Linked DNA regions of Homo sapiens: region 1 is linked to region 2. A link means that fine-mapping ties the variant in region 2 to the plasma level of a protein whose gene starts in the linked region. Region 2 holds a variant in brackets. A gene starts in the other region. All regions are shown on their forward strands.

Region 1 (17,421 bases), not on the chromosome of region 2:
TAATTTAATCATTCTGCAATGTATATTTGTATCATAACATCACATTGTACTCCATAAATAGACACAATTATTATTTAATTATAAATAAATAAAAATAAAACTTAGAGTGTATGACCTAAGAGTGTCATTTTTATACAAAATAATATGTCAAATAAATAAATATATGATGCTAGCTTACAAACAGAAATATTACATAGTTACAGGACTTAGTTATTTAAAGCAGTAGGGTTAAGGTCTTAACATCAGCAAGTGTGCTTTGAAATAAAAACAAAAGTACAAAATGGGAAGTGATAGTCAAGAAACAATATCTGGCCACACTATGTGGGTATTAACGCCTTTTCGCTCCTCAGCCATCCCAAATGTGGCCCTTCCTCAGGAGCTTGTGCTGATTTGCCCTTGGCCTGAGACCTTCACTCTATTATGTATTTTGCTTGCTCCCTGGCTTCCATCAATTCTCTGCTCAAATGGCACCCTTATCCGTGAGGCCTTCCCTAACCCTCCTGTCATATAGATAGACTTCTTACCACCACCACCACCCAGGGCCCTTCCTACTCTCCATGCCTTCTGTTATTTTTATCTACAACACTTATCACCATCTAGCATACTACATATCTGCTTGTTTATTTTCTTATTTCCTGTCTCTCTCACTATAATATAAGCTCCATAACAGGAATTTTGTTTTGATTCCTGCTGTATGGTACCAAGAACAGTATCTGGCAAGAAACAAGTACATAATATTTATTTATTTATTTTTGAGATGGAGTCTCACTCTGTCACCCAGGCTGGAATGCAATGGCACAATCTTGGCTCACTGCAACCTCCGCCTTCCCGGCTCAAGTGATTCTCTTGCCTCAGCCTCCCGAGTAGCTGGGATTACAGGCGCCCACCACCACATCCAGCTAATTTTTGTATTTTTAGTAGAGATGGGGTTTCGCCATGTTGGCTAGGCTGGTCTCGAACTCCTGACCTCAGGTGATCCGCTCACCTTGGCCTTCCAAAGGGCTAGGATTACAGGCGCGAGCCACCACACCCAGCTTAAATATTTACTGAAAACACTGCCTGTAAGAACACAATTTTAAGAGGTAGAAAACAGTACTCCTTTAAAAGCATATCGCTCGAGTGGCAATCCAATCTACCTTTTCCTTGTATTGTTTGCCATAGGTTTTCTTCCAGAGATGCCAGTGGTGATCCAGGGTAGGATCTTTATGCAACTGTGCCACTGCAGAGGAGCACACCAAGAGCACACAAACCAGCCGTTTCATTCTGTGTAAGGAAAGGTAACATAGGAAGTGTTGCTATTAGCTGCATATGTTGTGACCACATGTTTTCATAAGAGAAAATAACAATGCAAAGTCTATCAAAGGGACAGACTATTATAAACAGAATTATACAGGAAAATTCCTGGGATATATAGTCACAGGGAACAGCTGCAGATTTATGTCAGAAATACTACTTCCAATGCTTAGTAGCACTTTAAAAAGTGATTTCCAGGAATTTCCCAATATCTGGTAAACCAAACACATCTAGAGGGTTAGAAAACAGGGACTTTCCAGGATTTGCCAACAAATCTAATCAAAGGAAATCTCTTTCTCTCTCTCTCAAAAAAAAAAAAAAATCATCCTTAAGAGAGACAAACCTCTGAAAAATCAGTTTATCTCCTGAATTTTTGAATACATGGGCTCTTCTTAACTGACCTGTTTAAATATCCACAGTCTTTACAGATAGTTAAAAGACAATTCTCATCTATTGCTTTCACATCTTTAGGTAGGTAATTTTCCTTTTTACGTTTTTTTTTTTTTAATGATCAGACATCTGTTTCAAATGAGGCAATTAACTACTCTTTAAAATGCCACTTCTGTATTTAATTCAAGAGACATCAACAGAAATTCAGCGACTAGCTCCCTCAAACTGGATTCTACTTTCTTTTCCATTTCTTTTTAATTGAAAACATCTGGAATTTTAAACATGTAAGCCTTTAAATTATATTCCAAAGAAAGCCATGTTTCAGTCTCAACTTAGATGCTTAGATGCTCAAGCAGACATTAACTTTTTAAAAATAGAGAAGAGGCAAATTGAACGACACGATTTTTTAGTTTACTTCCTGAAACCAAAGATTTAAAACCTAGCAGGCAGAACAAGTTACAAACACAGAGTGTTTGAAGACCAAATGGGAGAAAAAGAACAAAGAGTACATACGTGATAGAACCAGCAGTTGCTCCCACAGTAAGAGTCCTTGAATTAGTGGGCTCTCTTCTAAGATTTCAAAGCAACAAGGAGATTTCAGTTCAATTGACTTGAAAAGAAATTGGAACTTGTCACATGAGGTACTCAAAATGAGGAAGTGAACTTTCATTTCAGTTTCATTTAAAATCTAGCTAGTACAGTCACCTCTAGTCATTTCCCTATGGTCTTGGGGACAAAGTGGATACAGTAAGCCATCAAGAAGAGCCCTTGTCTGAGCCCAGTGGCTCATGCCTATAATCCCAGCACTTTGGGAGGCTGAGGCGGGAGGATCACTTGAGGCCAGGAGTTCAAGACCAGCCTAGGCAATATAGTGAGACCCTGTCTCTGCAAAAAAATTTTTTTTAATTAGCTGGGCATGGTGGTGCATGCTTGTAGTCCCAGCTGAGGGGGAGGGTGAGGTGGGAGAATTGCTTGAGTCTAGGAGGACAAGGCTGCAGTGAGCCATGATTATGCCACTGTGTTTCAGCCTGGATGACATATCAAGACCCTATCTCAAAAAAAAAATTAAATTGAATTTTAAAAACACCAACTTTTACATGGAAAACATTTAGTTATAAAGAGATTTAGATAAAGCTCCCCAAATCCCAGCTCCTTGTATGATTTCCTAGGAAAACCTGTCTTACTGCTTTTAACACAACTCATTCATGATCTGATATTGTCTGGTTCTCACTCAGCCATTCCTTCGTTCATCAAACTCAAAATGTCTTTATTAATATATACTATATGTATAGTTTAGTAATATGCGTGTGTGTGTGTGTGTGTGTGTGTATGTGTTAGTATATTCATGGAAAAAAGGATACACTCAAATATATCCAATTGAGAATGATTACCTGGGTGGGGTGGGAGCAAGACGAACTATCATCTTTTAAATTTGCATTTTCCTAATTACTAATGAGGTTGAGGATCTTTTCACACATTTATTGACCGTTTGAATTTTCTGTGAATTTCCTGTTCATCTTTTTTGCTCATTTTTCTATTGTATTGTTGCATTTTCTTAGTGATTTGTGGGAGGTGTGTGTGTGTGTGTGTGTTGTGTGTTTTCCGAGACGGAGTCGTGCTTTGTCTCCCATGCTGGAGTGCATTGGTGCGATCTTGGCTCACTGCAACATCCACCTCCCAGGTTCAAGCGATTCTCTGCCTCAGACTCCCAAGTAGCTGGGATTACAGGCACCTGCCAGCATGTCCAGCTAATTTTTGTATTTTTAGTAGAGACAGGGTTTCACCATCTTGGCCAGGCTGGTCTTGAACTCTTCACCTCGTGATCCACCCGCCTCAGCCTCCCAAAGTGCTGGGATTACAGGTGTGAGCCACCGTGCCCGGCCAAGGTGTATGTGTTTTAAAAATATATTCTGGCTTCTAATCTTTGACAGTTATATACCCTTAAAAACATCCTCCCTTAGTCTTCCACTTGTCTTTTATTTTATTTTTTCTTCCTTTGCATAAGCCTATGAAATTCCACTTGTCCTTTAGTCTTGTTTATAGTGAGTTTTTCTATATGAAATTTTTTTATGTTGAGGTAGAACATTTTATTCAGCTTTTCCGTATAATCAATCTATACTGTTTTTGTATAAGAAAATTTTCCTCATCCAAATGTAATAAAGATACACTCATCTTATTTTTATACTTTCAGAGAGTGTTTTATTTATCTTTTCTATGGCTACTGCTTTTAGGTGTTTAATTCACCTGGAATTTAGTTTTGTGTATGGTATGACGTAGGGAGCTTATTTTCTTTGTTTTCCAATTTTGATTCTACCTCTATTGTACACCAAATTCTCATACATAGATAGGTCAGTTTCTGAGCTCATGAAGCTGTTCTTTTTATCTTTTGCTACTTCAGTATCACACAGTTTTAATTAAAACAGCTTTGTAATATGTCTCCACGTATGGTAAGGCAAGTCATCTAGGCCACCCTATCTTTGTTCTTCTTTTTAAACATTGTCTTTGTATTTTGTACTTGTTAACTCTTCTTTATATGAATTTTTTGAATCAGTTTATCAAGTTCCCTGAAAAACTCTGTTGGAGTTTTTTGCTTTTTTCTTTTGGAGACAGGGTTTCATTCTGTCACCCAGGCTGGAGTGCAGTGATGCAATCATGGCTCACTGCAGCCTTGACCTCCTGGGCTCAAGTGATCCTCCCGCCTCAGCCTCTGGAGTGGCTGGGACTACAGGTGCACACCACCATGCCTGGCTGATTTTGTTTTTTGTTTTTTGTAGATAAGGGGTTTCACCATGTTGCCCAGGCTGGCCTCAAACTCCTGGGCTCAAGCAATCTGCCCACCTTGGCCTCCTGAAGTGCTGGGATTACAGGCATGAGCCCCCACATCTGGCTATTAGAGTTTTTATTTGAATATATGCATAAATTTAGGGAGAAGTAACATCATTATAATGTTGATTCATCTCAGCTGTAGTAGACATGTTTGTGTTTGTAGCCATACAGTTTTTTTTAAAAAGATACTGCTTATGGAAAATTTAAAACACATGTAAAAGTAAAAATAGTAGTAAAATGAGCTGCCGTGAAACCATTGTCTTGTTTCAACAATGATCAGTACATGGCCAATCTTATTTTATTTATATTCCCACTCTCACTACCTGAATTATATTAAATAAATTCTAGACATTCTGTCATTTCATACGTAAATGTCCCTGTGTGTGTCTTTAAAAGACAGAGACTATTAAACAAATATAATACCACAATACCATCATCACATCTAAAATAAATGAACAATAATTTTCTTTTTTTTTTTTTTCTGAGACAGAGTCTCACTCACTTGCCCAGGCTGGAGTGCAGTGGTGTGATCCCAGCTCACTGCAATCTCTGCCTGCCGAGTTCAAGCGATTCTCCTGCCTCAGCCTCCCAAGTGGCTGGGATTACAGGCATGTGCCATCACACCCAGCTAATTTTTGTATTTTTAGTAGAGATGGGGTTTCACCACATTGGCCAGGCTTGTCTCGAACTCCTGACCATAGGTAATCTGCCCACCTCAGCCTCCCTAAGTACTGGGTTTACAGGTGTGAGCCACTTTATTGTCATAAGAAATTAAGACAATAATTTCTTAATGTCATCAGACATCCTATCAATGTTCACATTTTCTGGACTGTCTTATACATTTTTTAATAGTTTGTTTGAATTGAGATTTAAATAAGCTCCATATATTGTGAAACCATTGAGTTATGTTTATATCATTATGAATTCATGGATTTAAACATATTTGATGTGTTTCAATCCATTCCAGTTTTATCCTTATTGATACTCATATTGTCTCATTTTTGGTCTGTAGGAATTTATTCAAACTGGCTCTTTGGTGCAGACAGAGTTTGTATATTTGGCATAATATTAGTACTCTTTAAAAGCTTCCTTTCTTTCTAATATGACAGGCTATTGCAGGTTTGTCTTGAACAATTCCTGCCCCAGACCTGGAATCAGCCATTTCTCCAAGGAGCTCTGGTTCCTTTTAGTGGAAACAATGTTTAAATACCATAATCTAGGAACTAGCAGTGTTTGGGATAGCAGATTGACCATTGTTGCTAAGCCTTTTCAGTAGCTAGAGCTAAGAAATATCTTTTTTAAAAAAATTAAATAAATCACAAGCTGACACTGATACTTCAAATTCAAATTCAAGACTATAGGGTTTACTCACCCCATCAATCTTATATCTGCACTTCTTTTCAAACATGCTTAAAAAATCTGGGTTCTCTAAAATATCAACTCAAGTACTTGTTTAATTTATCCTGTAAAATTGCAGAATAACAACAACAAGCCTACGCCAATAAGATTGTTAATGAAAACAAATTAGAGGTTTTAAAGTGGAGGGGGACAGGTTTTTCTCCATTAAGCCAAATGTCGCTAACGATGTAAGTCAATTACTGTGTTTTGAAGTCACCTGGAATAGTTCCCTGTATGGTTATGCTCCACCTCCATACACAGGTTTATTTGTTTCATTTCACTTCTTCCTTTTAGGGCTTGCTTTTTACACTTATGTAATTTCATTTTATAATTATGTAAAACATTTATGTGGATCCAAAGTGAAATCATCACAATGAGGTATATTCAAAGAACTCTAGCCTCTACTTTTGTCTGTTTTACACGATTTCCTTTTTTCCTTAATTGGTAATCATTTAAAAAATTTATGGTTTATCTTCCTATTTTTAGAAATATGCAAATATGCCTATATATTAATATTCTTTCATCTTAAGTGAACACTAACATATTACACATATTTTTCTCTATCTTGTTTTTTTCACTTAGCATTTTTTTTGTTTTAGTCAATCACTTAACATTTTATTAAGAAAAATTATTCAGGCGAAAGACATTAGCAGGTGTCCTTTCAGTGATGTGCTGGGTATTATTTAGTGGACCTTTACAGGAATTGTTTGATTCTTTTTAGAGTTAAGTTGTAAAAAACTGATAACTATGCAAATGATCCCTATACATGGCAATGCAAATAAATTTTGTATTGTAGATTTCACTGAATAGAGAAATAGAGAATGTAGATCTCTGTCAGTCGAATTCTTTTTTTTTTTTTTTTGAGACACGGCCTTACTTCATCGCCCACGCTGGAGTGCAGTGGTGCGATCTCAGCTCACTCTAACCTCCGCCTCCCGGATTTAAGCGATTCTCCTGCCTCAGCCTCCCCAGTAGCTGAGATTACAAATGCACACCACCACACCCAGCTAATTTTTGCATTTTTAGTAGATACAGGGTTTCACCGTGTTGGCCAGGCCGGTCTCGAACTCCTGACCTCAGGTGATCCACCCACCTCGGCTTCCCAGAGTGCTGGGATTACAGGCATGAGCCACCATGCCCGGCCTCAAATTCTTATTTGAACTGACTTTAATCTTACTGATCCCTTATTAATTAATGAGTTAAACTTCGATGCGTTCGTTGTATATTTGCTCTCAGCTTTTTAGAAACTATACTTTAGCAATTAAATTCTGATAACTCCACAGTAGTATATACAGTGTTCATTTATTTTTATGGCCACCTAGCATCTTTTGAACAATATTCCCATGTTTGGAGAATTTCCCACGTTATAAATTTTGCTTCTCCAAGTTGAAGCCAAAGCTCCATTTTCAAGGATCCAGTGCAGTTAAGGCACAGACATGAGACCTAGCCTTTGCCAGTCAGGCACACCTGTATAGAACATCATTTTGCAAGTGGGTAAGTGAGGAACCAGAAGTATGTAAAATCCTCCTTTTGGTGAGAATGGCAGTAGAGATGTCTCCCAGCAGCAGCAGCACCAGCAGGAGCAGGAGCAGCAGCAGATATTCTAATATCTGGTCCCCAGTGTCACCTGTTCAAACTGTAGTGTTTATGTCAAATATTGTGTCTGCTCAGTGGCATCATAGGTTGAGCAGTCCTCTCTGTGGTTTTGGTGATGTTTGTGGTTACACAATAAACAAACCTCACCGACTTTCTGGCCTTTCATAGGTTCTTTGAGTTTCCGGCACTTTTTTTTTTTTTTTTTGAGATGGAGTTTCACTCTTGTTGTCCAGGATGGAGTGCAATGGCATGATCTCGGCTCACTGCAACCTCCGCCTCCCGGGTTCAAGCGATTCTCCTGCCTCAGCCTCCCAAGTAGCTGGGATTACAGGCATGCGCCACCACGCCAGGCTAATTTTGTATTTTTAGTAGAGACAGGGTTTCGCCACGTTGGCCAGGCTGGTTTCAAACCCCTGACCTCAGATGATCCGCCCGCCTTGGCCTCCCAAAGTGCTGAGATTACAGGCGCAAGCCACTGCGCCTGGCTGCTTCCTGCACATTTTAAATAAACTGTAGTACCCGGATAGATGAACCTAGTATTGACATCCACAGCCGTGTTGAGTTTGGAAAAACAAGGGTGGAGTGTCAGAAGCTAGAATGGGGAAGGTGCTTTTCTCAGGCTGCGAATACAGGAAACTCAAGAAGAAAGCTATTGTGGAGCTCTCAATAATTTCAGGTTGCCTTCTCTATCCTTCTTTACACATCTGATCTCATACCTGATGTTTTTTGCTTTTAGCCTTGATACCTCTATATGTATTTCTATCCATAGAAATAGACAGTTCAATTTCCTTAATGAGAAATTAGCATAGGAACAAATTTCTTTCCATCAAGATTAAATGGTAGACAACTGCTTTTACAAGGGACCATGTATTTTTCCAGTCATTGTTTCTCTGTCTGACGAGGTCTATAAATCTACACTCAGTACAGAGCATAAACGTGGTGATTAGGCAACAGCACACCTTCTGTCTCCATTCCTGGGTATTGCCTACATGGAATTGTGTATGAAATTATGTCTCTACCTGTTTCCGGTAATCCTCTACCAAGTGGGAAAAAATTTTGGGGTTAATTGTGTTTTCTAGTGGTACTCTAAACCGGATTCAGGACGGCAGCGGCCATCTAAATGTCTTCCTTTGTTTATTTCTAAATCCATAAATTAATTCCAGATTTACCAAGAAACTAAATTGAGTTGATCCCAAAATGAAACAGGGCTCTCAGGGACATACTCACTTCTTCCCAGCCTGCCTTTGGACTCAGTAAGTAAGCAGAGACTGTGTTTATTTGTCTGATATACATGACCCCTGGTTAATATGTAGGTCGTAGAAGAAACCAAAATTTTACTTATGGAAGGCAGGGAGAATAGAGATGAATTACCTTTTGTGAGAAAAAGAACAAGTGACATATTAACTGCTATTGTATTTTCTGTTGTCAGGACGTGGGCTGAGTAAAAAGCTTAAAAGCTTTTGCATATGTCTTGGTTCTGCCATCTATTGGTTATAAGGCCTGGAACAAGTGATTTAACATGCCCATGGCTCACTTTCCCTATGCATAAGTACGGAAATGCTGACTTAGTGGCAACTAAACAGTGGAAGACACCAGCAATAGAATGTAATTATAATATCGCTCCATGAGATGGTAAGATTTTACAGTTCCAACTAATTATTCCTGAGTCCGTTCCTTTTGCAGAACAAGTTTCTAATAAAGTACTCAGGATTAAGATAGATGGTTATGAGCAAGTGCTACCATTTAGGATATTCATTTGAAATACTAATGCTCCTGGCATTTTTTTTTTTTTTTTTTTTTTTTGAGACAGAGTCTCGCTCTGTCACCCAGGCTGGAGTGCAGTGGCGTGATCTCAGATCACTGCAAGCTCTGCCTCCTGGGTTCATGCCATTCTCCTGCCTCAGCCTCCCAAGTAGCTGGGACTACAGGCGCCTGCCACACGCCTGGCTAATTTTTTGTATTTTTAGTAGAGACAGGGTTTCACCATGTTAGCCAGGATGGTCTCGATCTCCTGACCTCGTGATCCGCCCGCCTCGGCCTCCCAAAGTGCTGGGATTACAGGCGTGAGCCACCGCGCCCAGCCGCGCTCCTGGCATTTTTTATTTTTATTTATTTATTTTTTTTTTTTGAGACAGAGCCTTGCTCTGTCGCCTAGGCTGGAGTGCAGTGGCATGATCTTGGCTCACAGCAAACTCTTCCTCCTGGGTTCAAGTGATTCTCAGCTTCCTGAGTAGCTGGGATTACAGGCATGCCACCATGCCTGGCTAGTTTTTGTATTTTTAGTAGAGACGGGGTTTCGCCATGTTGGCCAGGCTGGTCTCAAACTCCTGACCTCGGGTGATCCACCCACCTCAGCCTCCTAAAGTGCTGGGATTACAGGCATGAGCCACCATGCCTGGCCAAGAAAAACATCTTTAATACAAAAACACAGAAAGGTTGACAATAATAGGAAGCTAAAAGCTAGATCACACAAACGCAAGCAACAGCAAAATGTGGGTATAATTATTCAAATATCAGTCAGAGTAGACTTTAAAGCAAGAAGCATTATGAGGCTAAAGAGGGAACTTTCATAATGATAAAGAAATAAATGATAAAGGGACCCGCCAGGAAGAGATTATAATCTTAAATCTGTATGCTCCTCAAAACATGGCCTCAGAGTCCCATAAAGCAAAGATTGCCAGAGCTAAAAGGAAAAATAGATAAAATCTGCAATCATAATGGGAGGCTTTGAGATACCTCTTTCAATAGCTTGTAGAATAAGCAAATGGAATAAATTAATAGCGATATAGAAGATTCGAATAATGCGATTAATGAACTTGTCCTAATTAAGATATCTAGAGCCTGTCCTCAACAACAGAATCCTTTTTTTTTTTTTTTCTTTTTTTTTCACCCAGGCTGGAGAGCAGAGGCAGGATCACGGCTCACGGCAGCTTTGAACTGCTGGGCCCAAGTGATCCTCCCAGCTCAGCCTCCCATGTAGCTGGGACCCCAGCCCCAAGCCACTGCACTGGCCTCAGAATATTTATTTTGAAGGGCACATAGAATATTTAACAAAATTGACTCTGTATGTGCTGGGCCATAAAATATTCAAGTCATTTAGAGTATGTTCTCTGACCACAGTGAGATTAAGCTAGGCCCAATAACAAAAATGTAATTAGAAAACCTCCCATTTAAGTGATATACTTCTTAATAACCATGGTTATTAAGAAGAAGAAATCATAATGGCAATTAGAAAATATTTTGAACTGAGCAATAATTTTTAAAAATGACATATAAAAATGTGTGAGATCCAGCTAAACCAGTGCTTAGAAAGAAATTTATAACTTTTTAATGCATATATTAGAAAAGAAGAGGCCGGCGCGGTGGCTCACGCCTGTAATCCTAGCACTTTGGGAGGCTGAGGTGAGCGGATCACGAGGTCAGGAGATTAAGACCATCCTGGCTAACATGGTGAAACCCCGTCTCTACTAAAAATACAAAAAAATTAGCCGGGCATGGTAGCGGGTGCCTGTAGTCCCAGCTACTCGGGAGGCTGAGGCAGGAGAATGGCGTGAGCCTGGGAGGCGGAGCTTGCAGTGAGCCGGGATCGCACCACTGCACTCCAGCCTGGGCGCGAGCGAGACTCCGTCTCAAAAAAAAAAAAGAAAAAGAAAAGAAGAATGGCTAAGAATCAGTGGTCTAAGCTGCCACCTCAAGAAGCAAAGGGAAGAACATCAGAGATGTTTTGATGTTCTCTATTTCCCGCCCTTTTTTTTTGTTTGAGATGGAGTCTGGCTCTGTCGCCCAGGCTGGAGTGCAGTGGTGCAATCTTGGCTCACTGCAACCTACATCTCCTGGGTTCAAGTGATTCTTCTGCCTTAGCCTCCCAAGTAGCTGAGACTACAGGCGTTCATCACCACACCCAGTTAATTTTGTATTTTAAGTAGAGATGGGGGGGGGAGTTCTCCATGTTCATCAGGCTGGTCTCGAACTCCTGACCTCAGTTAATCCACTCGCCTTGGCCTCCCAAAGTGCTGGGATTACAGGCGTGAGCCACCGCGCTTGGCCATCTTTTGGACTAAATAAAGACTGTTGAGCTACTCTGGCAGTACTCTTTTTAGAAAAGCACTTGCAGCAAAATTGTGCTTTCAATAAATGATATTAAATTGTGCATTTTATCTTTGAACTCTCAAACTCTGTTATTCTTTTTCAAAATAGGAAGTTTCTAGCAAATATGGAAAAGAGGAAATACCCAAATCGATATGTTTTAATGAATTAAATACAGATATTATGCATCTTCTGTGCCAGGCATTGTACAGGGCACTGAAGATCTTTCCTGCCCATTATTTTATTTGATCCTCCCAACAACATATGAGGTGGTAGTGGTAGCAATAGTATCCCTATTCTATAGTTTAGGAAACTGGGACTTAGAAAGCCTTGTCTAAAACCATTGTGGAAATAAGTGGTGGAACTGAAACTTGAAGTCCACACCAACATCCTTGATGCCTGGGCTAGATATTGTATTTCATACCAGGCTGGAGCAGCGGTGTCTCAGAGCTGGCTTGTATTGACACTCGTTCACGAAAGCTGCTTATACCCACTTCATCCTCACTCCATCTTTAGTAGCATTGCATTGGTAGCTTAAAATAAGCAAACTCTACAAATCAGGTCTCCCTTATTTTATTTTATTTTATTTTATTTTATTTATTTTTTTGAGACAGAGTCTTAGTCTATCACCCAGGCTGAAGTGCAGTGGCGTGATCTTAGCTCACTGCAGCCTCCACCTTCCAAGTTCAAGTGATTCTCCTGCTTCAGCCGCCCACCACCATGCCTGGCTAATTTTTTTTTTTTTTTTTTTTTTTTTTTTTTTGAGACAGAGTCTTACTCTGTCACCCAGGCTGGAGTGCAGTGGCGCGATCTCAGCTCACTGCAACCTCCATCCCCAGGGTTCAATCAATTCTCCTGCCTCAGCCTCCTGAGTAGCTGGGATTACAGGCATGCGACACCACACCTGGCTAATTTTTTGTATTTTTAGTAGAGACAGGGTTTCACCATAATGGCCAGGCTGGTCTCAAACTCCTGACCTCAGGTAATCCGCCACCTCAGCCTACCAAAGTGCTGGGATTACAAGCGTGAGCCACTGCGCCCGGCCCGCGCCCGGCTAATTTTTGTATTTTTTTGTAGAGATGGGCTTTCACCACATTTGCCCGGCTGGTCTCCACCTTCCTGAGTTCAAGTGATCTGCCTGCCTCGGCCTCCCAAAGTGCTAGGTTTACAGATCTGAGCCACTGCGCCCAGCCTATTTATTGTTTTAATCTGGAGAGCCAGTTGTTAAACACTTACTAGCATGCAACTGGGCTGGACTCAGAAGGCACGGCATCTGCTTAAGTTCCTTTTCTTTGAACTTTCTTATTTTGTTCAAGACTTGGCATTGTAAGAAGTCGCAATACTGGCTTGAATTACTATAGTTTCTCAGTTTCAGATTTTACAGAATGGTAAAACTTGAAGAAAATATTAGAGGGCCAACTTAAGGGTTTTTTTTTAGTTTATCAAATAAGGGTATTTAAAATGTATTATCTTCACTCATCATTTCAAAATTGAAGGAGCATTTTAACACCAAAAAAGGATAAAAAGGAAATAATCTCAGAATTTAGAAGTTGATTATATTTAGTTTTGTTAAAAACTCACTCCAGCTGGGTGTGGTGGCTCATACCTGTAATCCCAGCACTTTGGGAGGTCGAGGCAGGCAGATCACTTCAGGCCAGGAGTTCAAGACCAGCCTTGGCAAGATGGCGAAACCTCGTCTCTAATAAAAATACAAAAAATTAGCTGGGCATGGTAGTGTGTGCCTGTAATCCCAGCTACTCGGGAGGCTGAGGTGGGAGGATCACCTGAGCACTGGAGGTCAAGGCTGCAGTGAACCATGATGGCACCACTGCACTCCACTCTGGGTGACAGTGAGAGAGAGACCCTGTCTCAAACCAACAAAACAGAACAAAAAAGTCTCACTCCATTGTCTATATTTTAATCATTTAACTGAAGACTAATGAAAATATTGTCAAGGACAAATATCCCACAAAACAGGGATTTTTGTTTGTTCAGATGTATCTCAAGCACCTAGAACAGTATCTAGCACTCAGTAAATATTCGATGAAAGAATGAAGGATTTGCAGGAATCTGGTGACCAAAGTTTGGCAACCAGAGGTGTAAGCTACCCAACTTGGCATCTTGGCTAGTCAGTCAGCTAACATATTTGAAGTATTTAAGAAGATATGAAAGAAAAAAATGCACAAATCCTATCTTAGGTTGAGAAAATCTAGTTGGGAGTTATAGAAGATGGATGCCTAAACATGGCTTAATCTCAAGGACAACTAATATCAAATTAGTTGCTCTACTTTTAAGAGAACTATGTAGCGCCTTTATTCAAGATATTAGAAATGCCTTTGCTAGAAACGGGAGAGTCTTTTCACGGTTCACTAATTTTCCCTAGGAATCTGCAGAACCAATGAGAATGAAAGCTTTTGAACGTACGATGATGAGGCAGGATTCTGAAGCTTCTATTTAACTGTATTGTCGGGGACATTGAAAACATCAATTGTAACTGTACCAATGAGATGGTGTTGGTAGCAGCGGTGTCCCTCTTCTATAGATGAGGAAACTGGAACTTAGGGAGGCTTAAGCAAGATCATTGTGGAAGGAAGTGGTGGAAGTGTGGGCATAGTGCCACAAACATTAAAAACAGGAAAGGTGAGCACAGAACAACTTTCCTTTAAGTCATTTCTCCTTCTTACATCTACCTGGTAAGTCAGCCCAGCCCTTTGGTAGAGGCACCTGTTACCAATGGCAGCAATAACAGAAGAGGCAGAGGAAGTGAAGATACCTAAGGTGGTGCTAAGGCTAAAGATGAATGACAGTTGCTTCATTTTATTTGTAAAGTGCAAGTGCAGGCCAGTAATAGCCTTCTTTAACCAGTGTATTTTAAGTCCTATACATACAAGCAGTTTCCAACTTGCAAAAGTGTTGTGTTTTAAAAGACATGTAAAGAGGCTGTTTAAAACCAAAAATAGAGGCCGGGAGCAGTGCCTCATGCCTGTAATGCCAGCACTTTGGGAGGCTGAGGTGGGTGGATCACCTGAGGTCAGGAGTTCAAGACCAGTCTGGCCAACATGGTGAAACTAAAAATACAAAAATCAGCCGGGTGTGGTGGTGCATGCCTGTAATCCCAGCTACTCGGGAGGCTGAGGCAAGAGAATCACTTGAACCTGGGAGGCAGAGGTTGCAGTGAGCCGAGATGGCGCCACTGCACTCCGGCCTGGGCGACAGAGATTCTGTCTCAAAAACAAACAAAAAAAAAAACAAAAATATACTCTCCTTAAGAAGTATTATAAAGTGGTTATTTGTTTCTTAAACATGTCAATAAAAATTCATATGATTTAGTCCATAATGTAGCTGAAAAATTATGTGTACACAATGGAAAACAGTACTAGAAATACTGCTGTAAACATAATAGACTTGACCTCAATTAGACTTGTTCCAGCAGCTCCTGAGACTGGGCTTCTATTGAATGAGCCTGAATTTCATTCCCACTGATTCAACAGTGGTAGCCAACTCTCATGTAGCAGACATTCTGACTCTGGCCAGGCACTGCTCTAAGCACTTTACATATATTGACTCATTTCATCACCACAAAAATCCTGCGAGGTAGGTATTATTCTTTTCTCTATTTTACAAAAGCCCTAACCCTAGCCCAAGATCACCTTGCTAGTAAATGGAAGAGGCAGAATCAGGATCCAGGCTGCCTGGCACCAGAGTTCATGCTCTTAACCACTATGTTATGTTGCCTTTCACTAAAATATAATTGGCTTCTTTCATATCAACCTTTAATTCAATAGAGAGGAAAGGGAAAGTAATTCCTGAGGGTGTTGGTATGGCAGGCAATCATGCAATTCTATAGAGTAGATACTCAGAATTTTTTTTTATTGAATGCAAGTGATAAATTATTATTGCTTTGAGTGATGGGGGTCTTACAAATTAATTTTTGTACATTTATGATAGCTAGAGTAAGAAGGTATTCAATAGAAAGACACATGGTATCCAGAAGCAGGTATGAAAACAATAAAATAAAATAAAGATGCAGATGGAATTTTCTACTGAGGCTAGGAAGATGCTAGCCTTTCTCTGGTTACTTAAATATTCCATCATTACACTTCAAACCGCAATGCCATGTAAGGTTTCAATCTGTCCCAGTAAGTCCTTGCTACTTTGTTAAGTCTCTGAGGGCTTCAAGTAGATACTTTTGATGTATTTTCCAGCTTTTCTATTTGCCCTCAGTGGGAAGGCTGGACTGAATTATGTAGTTCACTATGCTGGAAGGGCAAGTCCCTGAGTCCCTGATTCATGATTTTACCATCCTCCACAACCTCTGAAACAGCGCCGTCCAACAGAAATGCAGTGTAAGGCACACAGTAAATCTAAGTTCTCTGGTGGCCATATTTAAAAAGTAAAACACGGGCCAGGCACGGTGGCTCACGCCTGTAATACCAGCACTTTGAGAGGCTGAGGCGGGCGGATCACCTGAGGTCAGGAGTTTGAGACCGGCCTGGACAAAATGGTGAAACCCTGCCTTTACTAAAAATACAAAAATTAGCCGGGCATGGTGGTGGGCACCTGTAATCCCAGCTACTCAGGAGGTGAGGCATGAGAATCATTTGAACCCAGGAGGCAGAGGTTGCAGTGAGCCGAGATCACGCCACTGCACTCCAGCCTGGGCAACAGAGCAAGACTCCATCTGAAAAAAAAAAAAGGAAAACAAAACAAAAAAGCGAGATAACATTAATTTTAAGCCACATTTTAGGCCAGGCGCAGTGGCTCACGCCTGTAATCCCAGCACTTTGGGAGGCCAAGGCAGGCAGATCACGGATCACGAGGTCAGGAGTTCGAGACCAGCCTGGCCAATATGGTGAAACCCCGTCTCTATTAAATATATATATAAATTAGCTGGGCACGGTGGTGCGCACCTGTTGTCCCAGCTACTTGGGAGGCTGAGGCAGAAGAATCGCTTGAATCCAGGAGGCGGAGGTTGCAGTAAGCCAAGATCGCACCACTGCACTCCAGCCTGGGGGATAGAGCAAGACTCTGTCTCAAAAGGAAAAAAAAAAGAAGAAAAAAGAAAAACACATTTTATTTAACTCAATGATAATATCCATAACATTATCCTTTCTATTTATAATCAATAAATTATTAATGAGATATTTTTGGTATCATCTTCAAAATTCAGTTTTGGAGAGCACCGTTGTCAGTTGGTCCAAGTGTCCAGGTCTGAGGCATCCGCCCAAACCCTCCCACTTCTGGCCCCTCAAACTGGAAGAACATTCATCATGCATTTTGTGTCCAAGGCTCAAAAGTTTGTTACCCAAGATGATGAGTGCTGACATGGATGCAGTTGATGCTGAAAATCAGGTGGAACTAGAGGAAAACAACACGACTTATTAATCAAGTGTGGAAATTCCAACTCATACTTGAAGATCTCTCTGCAAGAGCAAACACAGGTAAGGAAGAAAATCTGAAGCTAAAATCAGAAAACCAAGTTGTTGGACAACATATAGAAAATCTCATGTCAGCTTCTGGTGTTTTTCAAACAACTGACACCGAAAGCAAAAGAAAGTAAGGAATTGACACACTTCTGTTTTACAGAATTGCTGCTGATAATTTTTTCTTTTAAACTTGGACAGATTCCAAAAAGTTACAGCATCTTTGTGGCTTCATTGAATATTTATGAAGAAAATGTCAGGTGAGGCAAAATTAACAGCATTAACAGGAGACTTCCCTAAGTTTGTATATTATATTAGTCTATGAAAACATGCAGTCTCTCCCTCTCCCTCCCCCTCCCCCTCCCTCTCCCCACGGTCTCCCTCTCTTTCCACGGTCTCCCTCTCATGC
Region 2 (8,000 bases):
TTGAAGAATGCCTGGACGTAGTGAGTGTTTAGGAGAAACTACTGCTATTAATATATCAAACATTCCTTAGCGTTGGATGCCCAAGAAAGTCACGATCACTGCATTTGTGGAGCTCACAGACCATTGAAACACCAGACATTAAACTGATAGTCACCTGAATGGGGAAATAATTGAGAAAGTACCGAGTGTTCTGAGAATTTAGAAAGGGACCTAACTTAGCTTTGGCATGGGGTGTAAAAGTCAAGGAGGTGACATTTAACTTGGGGTGTGTAGAAGTTAGCCAGATAAGAATGTGGAAGGAGAGTGTTGGAGGCAGGAGAACAGTGTGTCCAAAGGTCCTGAGGAGGGCAGGAACTTGATTTGTTAGAGGAATTAAAAGTCTTGTATTCTTGGAGTTTGGCATAGTGGGGCTAGACGGGTAGGAGGAACCTTATCTTTCAGGGCTTTGGGGGCTGTGTTTAGGATTTTGGGCTTTTTATAAAAAGCAATTGGAAGCTATAGAAGGATTTTAAATATGGAAGTGTCATAGAGAGATTTGGATGTATTTTTGTTTTGTTTTGCTTTTTAAATACCATGTTGATTTCCTCTTTGGAGACTAAACGGATATGGTGTGAGTGTGACTGTAGGGAGAATAACTGTTCTAACAGTTTAAGGGACAGACGATGTTCATACTGGGGGTAGCAATGGAGATGGACAGAAATGCATAGATTTGAGGATAACTTAGAAGAATCATTGAAGAGGGTGAACTAATTTAGTAGATGGGGGAATTAAAGGAGATGCCAGATAGGAAATCTGTGGGGTGGCTGGTGGTGCTGTTTATGAGACGAAGAATGTAGGAGTGTATTTAGAGTGACGTTCAGTTTTGGACATGCAGACCTAATTAGAAGTGTTTGTGAGCCATCCATGAGGAGATACTGAGACTGCAGTTTTATTATGTGGTTCTTGAGCTCAGAGGAGAGGTCTGGGTTGGAGATAAACATTTGAGAGTAGTAGGCATATAGATGATAATTGAAGTCCCCCATCTACTAAATTAGTTTACTCTCCTCAGTCTTTAAAATTGCCTGGAGAGGCCGGGCACAGTGGCTCATGCCTATAATCCCAGCACTTTGGGAGGCCGAGGCGGGCGGATCACCTGAGATCAGGAGTTTGAGACCAACCTGGGCAGCGTAGTCAAACTCTGTCTCTACTAAACATACAAAAAAAATTAGCCGGGTGTGGTGGTGCATGCCCATAGCCCCAGTTAACTTGGGAGGCTGAGGAAGGAGAATCACTTGAACCTGGGAGGTGGAGGTTGCAGTGAGCCAAGATCGTGCCACTGCACTCCAGCCTGGTCAACAGAGGAGACTCCATCTTAAAAAAAAAGGCCAGCGCTGTGGCTCATGCCTGTAATCCCAGCACTTTGGGAGGCTGAGGCGGGTGGATCACCCGAGGTCAGGAGTTCGAGACCATCCAGCCTGATCAACATGGTGAAACCCCGTCTCTACTAAAAATAACAAACATTAGCTGGGCGTGGTGGCACATCCCTGTAATCCCAGTTACTTGGGAGGCTGAGGCAGGAGAATCACTTGAACCTGGGAGGCGGAGGTTGCAGTGAGCCGAGATCGCGCCGTTGTACTCCAGCCTGGGCAACGAGGGCGAAACTCCATCTTAAAAAAAAAAATGTTTGGGGAGATAGTACAGGTTGAGGAGAGGAACGTTTAATATGGGGCCCTGAGGTAGGATGAACCCCCACTTTGGAAAAGCAGTTCAAGGTCGACAGAGGGTCGTGGGCTGACAGAGGCGAATGGGAAAGAGCAGCAGATAGGAAAATCTGGACTGTAGTGTCACGAAGGCAAGGGAACCAAATGTTACAAGATGTGCATGTGTGCATGCGCGCATGCGTGGGCAGGGGGCATCTCTTTCTAATGTAGAGAGAGAAAGAAAGATGGTTTTATTAACAGGGAGGGAGAGTTGTTTCAGTTGTTTGGGGGGTGGTGAATCCAAAGTAGTATGAGTTTGAGGGGTGTGAATGGCTGGTGGGAATGAATACAGTGACTGTAAACAGCTATTAAGAGTTTAGCAGCACCAGGAAAGGAAGGTGGAACTGGGGAGGGGAATGTGCAGTTCCTACATGGTGATGAGGGAGCCAGTGGAGAAGAAGTGGAAGAGGAGGCAGTGGATATTATATGCTGCTTGAGATGGCAGGAGGAGGTGGAATATAGAGTGCAGAGAAGGACTGATTGCCTTTTGATAGGAAGAGGAGAGAAGGGGGAAATGATGGGTGTGTATGCAGATAAATGTATAGATTCGGTGGTGGAACTGATGAAGCAATGCTCATATAATGGTTTTTGTTTTCTCTGAAGAGGTGAAGAGTAGGAGGAGAAAGAGAAGGTAGTCTGAGGTATAGGGAGAGAGTGGGAAAGTTTGAAATAGCCATTATGGAAATGAAGCTGATTGGAAAAACTGTATATTAATAATTGCCAGATAATATTATGTGCTCTAGCACCCAATCCTGATGATTCTTGTCAATATCTCTCAAAAGCCATCAACTCTTTACTGCTCCTGCCTGAATTCAGGTTTTTATTATTTTAACCTGTACTGTACTAGTTTTCTTTCTTTCTTTCTTTCTTTCTTTCTTTCTTTCTTTCTTTCTTTCTTTCTTTCTTTCTTTTTTTTTTTTTTTGAGACAGAGTCTCTGTTGCTCAGGCTGGAGTGCTGTGGTGTGATCTCGGCTCACTGCAACTTCTGCCTTCTGGGTTCAAGCGATTCTTGTACCTCAGCCTCCTGAGTAGCTTGATTACAGGCGCGTGCCACTATGCCCAGCTAATGTTTTGTATTTTTAGTAGAAGACGGGGTTTCTCCATGTTGCTCCTGCTGGTCTGGAACTCCTGAGCTCAGGCAGTCTGCCCACCTTGGTCTCCCAAAGTGCTAGGATTATAGGCGTGAGCCACTGCACCGGCCTATTGTACTAGATTTCTACATGGTCTTCTTCACTTCAGTCTTAACCTACTTGTAGTTCTTTTCCACATTACTATCAGGAAACTTTTACTATGTTTTTTTAAATAAGAAAATATATGTTGTTACTACTAATTTTTTAATCGTACTTCTGGTACACAGAATTTGATAAAATTGTAATCCTTGGATCATGACACTCTCTCACTGTTGGTCTCGTCATAACCTGTTAAAATTTATTTACTCTGTAATTTTTAATAATGTAATAAGCAGTGTGCAGTTCCGTCTACTGCCTTCCATTACCCACAGTAACGAGCCTTCTGATTTCTAAGTCCATTCTTCCCTCGGGTCCTTTTTTATATGGTTTTATTGCATCTCTCTATGTTTCTAAAATGCCCTTTTTATTATAGAAAATTTTAAAGGTACACAAAAACAGAAAAAGTATGAATTCCTGTGTACTTACCATCCAGCTTCAACAATTATCGACACATGACCAATGCATTCAGGCCCTTCTCTGCCTGTGGAATATTTTGAAGCAAACCCCAGACACCATGTATATATTTTAATTGTATTGAAATGTGTAAGGTACTCGTGCTGTATGTACACTTTTGGAGAGTGCTTTCTTAATAACATTGTCACGATCCATTTGTTTTGTTGCAGTCATTGGAGTTTATTAATTGTAGTTTCTATATACTATTCCATTGTATGAATATACTATAGTTTATTCATCTTCTCTTCTGTAGATGGCCCTTTGAGTTGATTCCAGGTCGTGGTTGCTAATGAATAATGCCACCATGAACATTCCTACACATGCCTCCTGTGGTACATGGCAAGAGTTTGTCTTGTGGAATTCCTGGGTTAGAGGGTGTGTGAATGTTCAACTTTAGGATATGATAACAAATATTTTCTAAAATAGGAAGTGTATTGATTTATACTTCAATCAGAAATGTATAAATGTATAAGTGAATGTTTATTTTGATTAATAAGCTTTATTGGCTTCCTATAATCAGTTAAGCAGACATCATTCTTTCCCTTTATCCATATTTTGGAGTACTGACTATGTGCCGGAACTGTGAAGGTGCTAGCAATATAACAATGAATAAGACAGATAAACTTGCTGTTCCCAAACTAAAGTTCAGATTCCTTGTTTCAATACACCAGGCCCTTACTGGCCCAGCACCTTCCTACCTCCTTATCCACAGCCTGCCTTCCTTGCTTTATTTCTTTCCATTCCTTGTAACTCTCCCCAAACATAATGAAATATTTATAATTTCTAAAAATACAGTCTTTTTAGAAATTATACATTTTTTTTAATAATATTTTAAAATAATGTCTTTTTTTTTTTTTCTGGACAGGGTCTCACTCTGTTACCCAGGCTGGAGTGCAGTGGCGTGATCTCAGCTCACTGCAGTCTCTGCCTCCCAGGCTCAAGTGATCCTTTCACCTTGGCCTCCTGAGTAGCTGGGACTACAGGTGTTTGCCACCATACCTGGCTAATTTTCTGTATTTTTTTGTAGAGGCAGTGTTGCCCAGGCTGTTCTCGAACTCCTGAACTCAAGCAGTCTGTCCGTCTTGGCCTCCCAAAGTGTTGGGATTACAGGCATGAGTCATAGCGCCCAGCCTAAATAATAATCCTTTTTTGGTTCTGGCCTTGCAAATGCTGTTATCAATATCTTTAAACCCCCACCTTCACCATTACCTACTGAGTGTCACATCAGTATCACTTGTTTTAGGAAGCCCTTCCTTGATCTCCCTAGTCTTAGTTGATATTCCTTCTCTGTACTCCT[A/G]TGGTACTGGGTGCATATCTATACATCTTATTATGTCATAAGTGATAATTTTCTTGTCTTCTGTAGTAGAAAGTAATCATTAAGAGCAGAGACTGTGTCTTTCCTCTGCATTTCCAGTATCCAGTGTAGTACCTGAAGCATAGTAGGTTTTTGGGAGGTGCTGAATGATTGAATGGCGAGGAAAGGGATAATTGAAGAGATATTTTGAAGGAATAAAAGACCACACTTGATGATAAACTTGCTAGTGAGTGAAGATGGCTGAAGAATCAGATACAGAGCCAGAGTTCCTCCTTAGGAGGTAGGAAGGCCTTAAAGTATATGGTAAAGGCAGAGATACGAGCTGAGGTATTCTGTGGAATACGACACAATAGCAGTCCTGGCTGCTTTTGAATCTTTAACCTTAATGCCTCCAGTCCTCCTTTTCTCAATCTGTTTTTTCGTATCTTTCAGGTTCAGAACTTGGCAGTAAGGAATCAACAGGCCTCAGCTCAAGGACCTCAGATGCAAGGCTCCACTCAGAAGGCCATTCCTCCAGGAGCCTCCCCTGTCTCTAGCCTCTCCCAGGCCTCTAGCCAGGCCCTAGCGGTGGCACAGGCTTCCTCTGGGGCCACAAACCAGTCCCTCAACCTTAGTCAAGCTGGTGGAGGCAGTGGGAATAGCATCCCAGGGTCCATGGGTCCAGGTGGAGGTGGGCAGGCACATGGTGGTTTGGGTCAGTTGCCTTCCTCAGGAATGGGTGGTGGGAGCTGTCCCAGAAAGGGTACAGGAGTGGTGCAGCCCTTGCCTGCAGCCCAAACAGTGACTGTGAGCCAGGGCAGCCAGACAGAGGCAGAAAGTGCAGCAGCCAAGAAGGCAGAAGCAGATGGGAGTGGCCAGCAGAATGTGGGCATGAACCTGACACGGACAGCCACACCTGCGCCCAGCCAGACACTTATTAGCTCAGGTAAATTGTCATTCCTCATGTCATTATTCTCTCAGAATTCATGTGAAATTTTCCTTTTTTTCTTTTTTTGCCTTTTTTTCTTTGCCTTTTTGTTTTTTCCCCGCTTCTGTTGGTCCTTGAATAGTGGAAGGAATGGGAATAATATCAGCCTTGAACATATTAGTTCAGGGTCAGGAGGACAAGTGACAGATACAGATTTTATCTGTTTCTACCAGGCAGTAGTCAGCTTACAAGTTCCCCTGTCCGCTTTCTTAGGCTGTGAGTTCTTCAGTTTTATCACTCTGTCTATTCATTCATCACATCTTACTGAATTGCTTACTGTTTTCTAGGAATTACTGGGGATACATTTTTGAAAAGTAGATTCCCTGTCTTCATGTAACTTAGCATTTACTATAAGGGATGAATTCTCACCTCACTGTTTAATGTGGTTACTTGATCCAGTGTATAGCAGATACAGTACAATGCCTTAGAGCACTTAAGACTAATGGAGAGGCGGGGTGCGGTGGCTCAGTCCTGTAATCCCAGCACTTTGGAAGGCCAAGGCAGGTGGATCACTTGAGGTCAGAGTTTGAGACTAGCCTGGCCATCATGGTGAAACCCCGTCTCTACTAAAAATACAAAAATTAGCCGGGCGTAGTGGTTTACACCTGTAGTCCCAGCTGCTCGGGAGGCTGAAGCAGGAGAGTAGCTTGAACCCGGTTGGCAGAGGTTGCAGTGAGCTGGGATCACACCACTGCACTCCAGCCTGGGTGACAGGGCAAGACTCTGATAGTTTATACTTGCTTTCAGACTGCGGGTAAGATGTAGTTAGATGTGTGTATCTTATTTGGTCATGTTGATTTTTGCCTTTTTTTGTTTCTAGTACCTTAGTTGTTGATGTATTTAGATAATTTACTCACAAAAAAATTAAGAGTTAGTTATTACTATACTTGGTATTTATATACTCTAGCAGTTCTATTTCTAAATTGCTTTATCATCACATGCTTTGATCTCTGGACAATCTGGTACAATATGGAGAAGTAGAGTTTGTCACTCCCAGTTTACAGTGGAGGAAACTGAGTTAGGTCAGAGCTGACAGGTGCTGACTCTCAAGACTCAGATGGTGGTCTAAGCTGATGATTTGTAAAATCCAAGTCATTTGTGGGAAGACGTTGACATCTTTAACTCTGTGGGTATCTCTTCTTTCAGTGAATATTAAGTGCTTCTGCAGTGTCAGGCCCTGGGCTGTGTTTTAGGGATGTGAAAATGAATAAAACATGGATTCAGCCTTTGAGAAACTCCAAGTCTAATGGAGGAGGGGCTAACCATTCTTCTTTGCTGAGTACAGAGTAAAAGAATACAATATTTAAGTATGGCAAAGATAAGAGACACAAGAAATTACTCAGGATCTGAAATGACTGAGCAAGGGAGTTCTTTCTCTGAGATCTTTAAGACTAGTAGTAGTTGGTAATGTCTGATTGAGTGGGAAGAGTATGGACGAAGTGATGTCCAAGTTTCATACTGACTAGATTTCTTTTCACCGCATAATTCCAAAACTAGGTTATACCTTGGAAAAATGAATTTACTTTTAATTTAGAATGATTATTATTCTCTGCTCTTTTTTCTCTCTGTTGTATTCTGGGATTGTTCCTATAGCCACCTACACACAGATCCAGCCCCATTCACTGATTCAGCAACAGCAACAGATCCACCTCCAGCAGAAACAGGTGGTGATCCAGCAGCAGATTGCCATCCACCACCAGCAGCAGTTCCAGCACCGGCAGTCCCAGCTCCTTCACACAGCTACACACCTCCAGTTGGCGCAGCAGCAGCAGCAGCAACAACAGCAACAGCAGCAACAGCAGCAGCCGCAAGCCACCACCCTCACTGCCCCTCAGCCACCACAGGTCCCACCTACTCAGCAGGTCCCACCTTCCCAGTCCCAGCAGCAAGCCCAAACCCTGGTCGTTCAGCCCATGCTTCAGTCTTCACCCTTGTCTCTTCCACCTGATGCAGCCCCTAAGCCACCAATTCCCATCCAATCCAAACCACCTGTAGCACCTATCAAGCCGCCTCAGTTAGGGGCCGCTAAGATGTCAGCTGCCCAGCAACCACCACCCCATATCCCTGTGCAAGTTGTAGGCACTCGACAGCCAGGTACAGCCCAGGCACAGGCTTTGGGGTTGGCACAGCTGGCAGCTGCTGTACCTACTTCCCGGGGGATGCCAGGTACAGTGCAGTCTGGTCAGGCCCATTTGGCCTCCTCGCCACCTTCATCCCAGGCTCCTGGTGCACTGCAGGAGTGCCCTCCCACATTGGCCCCTGGGATGACCCTTGCTCCTGTGCAGGGGACAGCACAT

Which allele goes with the higher level. Alleles are on the strand shown, and positions count from the first base shown. The strength of an association depends on the size of the effect and on how common the allele is.
With allele G in place of A in region 2, the plasma level of the protein whose gene starts at base 2,277 in region 1 is higher (moderate association).

The links. PIP is the chance, under the fine-mapping model, that this variant and not a neighbour inherited with it causes the effect. The UK Biobank Pharma Proteomics Project read protein levels with antibody pairs (Olink). The fine-mapping took linkage between variants from a reference panel, not from the people measured, so its PIPs are less certain.
Region 1: CTSS starts here. The variant in region 2 is fine-mapped to the plasma level of the CTSS protein (UK Biobank, PIP 0.91).

What each region holds. Positions count from the first base shown.
Region 1 is chr1:150,763,502-150,780,922 of GRCh38, forward strand. CTSS (cathepsin S) reads right to left here and starts at 2,277. Exons shown (of 8, transcript NM_004079.5): 1 at 2,197-2,277; 2 at 1,137-1,263. The coding sequence starts at 1,262. It also overlaps the pseudogene LOC100132571. RefSeq lists enhancers at 367-456, 1,168-1,217, 2,148-2,292, 2,151-2,295, 12,754-12,898 and 1 more, cis regulatory regions at 2,220, 2,223, 12,826 and a silencer at 7,488-7,607.
Region 2 is chr12:8,925,267-8,933,266 of GRCh38, forward strand. PHC1 (polyhomeotic homolog 1) reads left to right here. Exons shown (of 15, transcript NM_004426.3): 7 at 5,169-5,661; 8 at 7,297-8,000. Among named protein-coding and RNA genes, the nearest start is that of PHC1, 15 kb to the left of the region's middle. The variant A/G (reference allele first, on the strand shown) is at 4,719.